Linked DNA regions of Homo sapiens: region 2 is linked to region 1. The links come from fine-mapping of genetic effects on gene expression. A gene starts in region 1. The other region holds a variant in brackets. All regions are shown on one strand. Distances are from middle to middle. Region 1 holds the start of BNIP2 (BCL2 interacting protein 2). Region 2 overlaps FAM81A (family with sequence similarity 81 member A).

Evidence for each region. PIP is the estimated chance that this variant, and not a neighbour inherited with it, causes the effect.
Region 2: its variant is fine-mapped to the expression of BNIP2 in whole blood (INTERVAL, PIP above 0.99).

What each region holds. Positions count from the first base shown.
Region 1 is chr15:59,688,291-59,691,050 of GRCh38, forward strand. It overlaps BNIP2 (BCL2 interacting protein 2), which reads right to left and starts at 1,030. Exons shown (of 10, transcript NM_004330.4): 1 at 845-1,030. RefSeq lists an enhancer at 736-1,384 and a silencer at 798-1,307.
Region 2 is chr15:59,522,641-59,525,660 of GRCh38, forward strand. It overlaps FAM81A (family with sequence similarity 81 member A), which reads left to right. Exons shown (of 9, transcript NM_152450.3): 9 at 1-915. It also overlaps the pseudogene RPL21P114. Among named protein-coding and RNA genes, the nearest start is that of FAM81A, 86 kb to the left of the region's middle. The variant A/C (reference allele first, on the strand shown) is at 1,849.

The sequences.
Region 1 (2,760 bases):
TTCTACAATTGCAGAGATTCCTATAAAATGTTAGAAAAACTACATTTAATTGAAAATACGAAATCAGGTATTAGGTGAAATAGAGATCCTAATCAAGAGAAGGTGAGAATGAAAAAAGCAACACTAAAATGCAATCACATAGTTTATTCAATTAAATAAATAGGAGGCACCGTAACTATCTTGATGCAACACCGGAAAAGCTGTTTCGTCAAAGAGCTCACAAGACACAGACAAGTAACTCTCCAGCGGCATGAAATGCATCCAGAAATCCAAACCATTTTGCCAGGTATTTAAACAGAAAGGGTTGTGTCTAGATTCACGCGGGGACTCGGCTTTTGACGTACACACTCTGTATTTGGTTTAGCGTACTAGGGAAGATCTATTAAAGCCCTGATTACTTATGCTGCTTCCGTGTCTATTCCCCGCGGTTACGAGGCATACCAGAAGTCCAAGTTTCTTTGTTCTGTACCAGGACGGACGCTGGTCATAAATACTGAACCATCGTAGCCCAGCCACTTCACCCACACCAGGGTAAAAGGGTGGGGGAGCGGAGGAGGGGCAAGGTTCCATCCCGAGCACAACTACCAGAAACGGAAAAGCGACGGGGTGGGGGGCCAAACTGCCAAATACAAACAGGACCCAAGCCAAGGGCGGGGACCTAAGCAGGGCGGGGATCCAGGAAGCACCTCCCGAGCAGGTTCTATGGCTCCCCCTACCAAGGGTAACTCTCTGGGTTTCCTCTCCCCGGACGTCGTGGGCACGCGCCCGACAGACTTTCGCCCCTAGGCCGGTTCCCAGTCCAGCTCCGGAGCCACCGTGCCGAGTTCTCCCAGGCCGCACTCACCCCGGAGGAAGCCTTGGCCCCCTCGTCCTCTTCGCCCCTCCAGGCCGGCGACGTGGGGCTGACGGCCAGGTCGCAAAAAGCAGGGCCGAGCGGAGCCCGCTCCCCTCGGTCGGCGGTGGAGACCCCGGCCCAATCCCCCGGCCGCAGCGGTACGGCGTCGGCGGCAGCAGCTGACCCGGACACAGTGAGAAGCCCCGGCGGAAGTGATAACATCCCGACCTCCTCCGGGCGCGGCAGCCGGCGGTGGAGGCGGCGGGGGCGTGGCGGCGGCGGAGGCGTGGCGTCTTCTTGAAACCCACACAGCATCCCCCCAACCCCCTCAGACGTCACGGGCTAGCGCTCGCGCCTGCACTCGCGGGGTCGGCCTTCCTTGCCTGTGGGCGGACCCGTCGCGTCGACTCCTTATTGGTGGCGTTACTACGCCTCAAGGCGTTTCTTCCCTCTTTGCTGTTCGCAGGGACGCTGCCTGGTAGTTTCAGTTACTTTTGTTTTCTTTCTGCCTGCCTTTATTGATCATTACAGTAGGTGAAATTATCGATATCAATAATAATATTGTAATACAATAGGTGCAATTATCAATATCAATATTATTACAACAGGTGCAATTATCAGTATCATTACAATAGGTGCAATTATCAGCGATCAATAATGTGAATTATAAAATGGATGAAATAAGGGGAGGAGGTCGGGCGCGGTGGTTTACGCTTGTAATCCCAGCACTTTGGGAGGGCGAGGCGGGTGGATTACCGGAGGTCAAGAGCTCGAGACCAGCCTGGCCAACATGGTGACACCTCGTCTCTACTAAACAAACAAAAATTAGCTGGGCGTGGTGGCGCGCGTCTGTAATCCCAACTACTCAGGAGGCGAGGGCGGAGGCGGAGGCGGAGTTGGAGTTTGCAGTGAGCCGAGATCGTGCCATTGCACTCCAGCTTGGGCAACAGAGCAAAAACTCCGTCTCAAATAAAAGGAAAAAGGAAAAAAAAAAAAAAAGAAAAAGAAAAAAAAGAAATAAGGCGAGGAAAAATATCCGAGGCATCATTTTGGGGAGTTAGGCCTCAGAAGCGACCTTAGAGTTTGGTAATATTTGAGTGTGAAAAGCTTTACAGCAGTGCTTCTCTTCACTGGGGGAACGGTCGGTTTATTTTTTTCAATTTTCAATTAGTTTTTGACAAGTTAATAAAACAGAAAAATGAAAAGACATACAAAGTCCAAGTCAAAACTTTTTATCGTTAGAGTTAACAGCCATAAAATTACCTGCAAAATTGACATAGAGTTTTCTACTCTCTCTCTGTGAACCATTTGCAAACAGTTCTCAGAAGAGCCCAGGTCTATAGACCATGGTTAGAGTACTCAAGGTAAACTACTCAAATTAGACCATACTCAGCTGTAGAGTTTCAACCAAATGAGATTTGTTTGGAGAACATCATAGTCTCTCTCAGTTGGGCGTGCTGGCTCATGACTGTAATCCCAGCACTTTGAGAGGCCGAGTCGGTAGATCGCCAGACCTCAGGGCAACATGGCGAGACCCCATCTCTTAAAAAAAAAAAAAAAAAAAGAGACAGAGAAAGAAAGAAAGAAAAAGAAGCAAAGAGAAAGAAAGGAAGAAAGAAAGAAAAGAAGAAAATTAGGTGGGCTTGGTGGCATGCACCTGTGGTCCCAGCCACTTGGGAGGCTGAGGTGGGAGACTCTCTGGAGCCTGGCAGGCGGCGGTTGTAGTGAGCCAAGATCGCGCCACTCCACTCCAGCCTGGGTGACAGCGAAACCCTGTCTTAAAAAAAAAAAAAAGTCCCTTTCCAAAGTTTCATCTGATAAATCCATAGAAAGGCTCAGCATCAAGTATTTGGGTGATTCCATTGGGGTACGATCAGGCCTGAGGGGAACAGAAAAGCTCAAAATTTTAAATCATTGACTAAAAA
Region 2 (3,020 bases), 170 kb before region 1:
GTGAGACACAACGTTCTGAACTGTGAGGGTGTCCCAGGAAAAAGAAAAACAGGAATACTTTAACAATTAAAAAGAAAAAAATGTTTTTTGTTTGCCAAGGACTCAGGAAAATAAAAAGCATTTTCTATTTTTAGGACAAATCACAAATGAAGTGTCTAACTGGCTATTACTGTTTACCCATATAAAATATGCTGCTAAAGTACATATTTTGCTGTCAATGGCTTGACAATTTTTTTTTTCAAATTTGGACATGAGAGGTTATATAGGGACTATATTATCCAACACATATTTTCTTATTTTGCCACAAATTTCCACTTAACAAATAAAAAAAGGCGAATGCTGTTTTGCAATCAGAAAGTGAATTTCTTTTGTGGTAGCGTACACGTGGTTCATGTGGTTCTCCACGTTTAAGCACAAACCACAGCACAGGAAGCCACACCCCCTCCAGCATCTCTGTCTTGTGGGGTCTTTGAGGAGAAGGAATCAGAACATCGACACCTGGGAAGAGGGAGGCGGGGAACACCAGCTGGACTCTGGCCAAGGAGTGATGTAAGCAGGTGACACTTGGCTGTCAGCTGAGCTTCTCAGGTGCTTCTGACATTGCCAGCCCCTTGAGATGAGCCACCGCAGGTGTGCTCACCTTGGCTACATGTTGAAATCATCCAGAGGAGTTGGGAAATCTACTGATGCCCCGCTGTGCCTCCCAGACCGATTAAGTCAGAACCTCTGGGAGGTGGGTCGCAGGCATCAGTGCGTGCCCGAGGCCTCCGCGTGTTTGGGTGTGCAGCCGAGGTGGTGAGCTGTCGAGCCACAGTGCAGTTCTCTTCTCACCAAAGCTCAAATGAGAATCAGCTTCCATGTTCTTTCCTTTACCAGAAATTTGCAATAAAAAGAAAAATAAAATTTTCACATAAATGTGGTGTATGATTTTTAAATTGAAAAGTCTTTCAGTGTTGAGCTGAAGACTTAATTAGGTAAAATGCCATAGGAAATATTTCTGTTTGCTCTCTGTGGAAACGCTTTGATGGTTGAAATAAAGTGCTCAAGTCCTGGCAGCTCCTCTGACGACTGGAATGTCATTGGGAGCTGCTGGTCTGTGGGCTTCGGGGCTGTAGGGCCTTCTCTGCAGCCTTCTTGTCTCTTGGCAGTTCTCGGGTGTGTGCTGTGTGCCTGTGCTGTGTCCCCTGTGTATGTCAACTCTTTTCATTTTAACTAGTTGAGTTCAATACCATTTCCCCATTTTACAGATGAGAAAACAGAGTCACCTAAAGGTTAAGCAACTTGCCCCAAGTCCTATAGCTGATAAATGGGAGCCATGATTCAAGCCAGGCCGCCTACTTCCGCACTCTGGGAGCCTTACCAGCATACCACACTACCTCCGAAGACATTTTGGCTTCCCACATAAGTGACTTGCTAGGCCACTGACATCAGCCATATCTATATGAGCTTGGCCTCCTGCCATCTGACTACCCTCGCTTTTTAATGCCCCGATTCCAAATACGTAATGAGGCAATCTAATTAGCTTGTCAAACGTCTTCCCCTGGCTGTATCAATGTGGAGGCACCAGAGGTGGGGGGCAGTTGGTGCCACAGGACTTGTAGGATCACAGGCATTTCATCCCCTGCACTTGGGCTGTCCTAGGTCGTGGTCCCTGGCTGGCTCTGCACATCGGGAGATGGATTGTGTAGGGGAGTGTAGAGCAGAACAGAGAAGATGGCTCCGTTCAAGTTGTAATTATCCCACTAGGCTTTCAGGGGGAAAAAGAATCACAAAGCACTGTGACATCAGTCCCTTGCTCTGCCACACAGCCCTCCTGACAGGTTGTTTACAACACAGCAGCTTGCTTCC[A/C]CCAGTACCAGTGAGAGAGAGGGTGAACGGGAAGGAAGCTAGTCTTTTGTAACCTAATCTCAGAAGTGACAAGCCACCACTTCCACTAGTCTCTTCATGAAAAGCAAGTCCAGCACACACACAGCGGGAGGGGATCACACAAGGGGCTGAACACCTGGGGATGGGGTCACTGGGGGACATTTTACCGACTTCCTGCTCCAGCCGGAATCTGGACTCTGAGTCTCAGTCAGGTGGGCCTGCAGTGCAGTGTCTACTCTATAAAAGGATACTGCTGAGGTCCTTTAGCTCTGGATTTATAGGGACGACAAAATAACTTTTTGAGATGAACTGAACCAAAAATGGCCCAAGATGAATTGACAATTTCCAATAGACATGTGAGGGAGCTTAGAAGTGGAGCTCCCTACCCAAAAGAAATGAAAGTGGGGAATCGGGTATGTGTACATGTGGGCATGGTGGCTTACGCCTGTAATCCCAACACTTTGGGAGGCTGAGGTGGGCGGATCACCTGAGGTCAGGAGTTCAAGACCAGCCTGGCCAACATGGTGAAACCCCCATCTCTACAAAAAACACAAAAATTAGCCGGGCGTGGTGGCACATGTCTGTAATCCCAGCTACTCGGGAGGCTGAGGCAGGAGAATTGCCTGAACCTGGGAGGCAGAGGTTGCAGTGAGCCGAGATCACGCCACTGCACTCCAGCCTGGGCAGCAGAGTGAGAGTCTGTCTCAAAAAAAAAAAGAAAAGAAGTGAAAACTCTCAGGCTCCACCAAGACCTACTGAATCAGAGGCTCTGAGACGGACGCACCAAATTGCTTCAAGTCCTGCAGGTGATTGTAATGTAAAATCTGAGGCTTGCTGCACTAATAAGTAGCCACTAATTACATGGATTTTTTTTTAACAGTCAAGAGGTCCTTAATTTTTTGGCACCTATTGTGCCATAAATTCATAGGGAACAGGTTCCAGCAGCTCAGGCCCTCTTCTGTTGGTTCACTAAGTGTGCTTCTCTGCGTAGAGCAGGCTGGTGCTTCAGCGGAACCCAGGTACGTTTCTCTTTGGGTTCCTTCGTTTTCTGATCGTTTTCCTTCCGCGTTTAGGAAACTATCTTGGCTCTTTAAGTACTTCATATGCTCAACATATACAGTAATTCTCTTGGCTAGAATATTGTTTGTTTACAG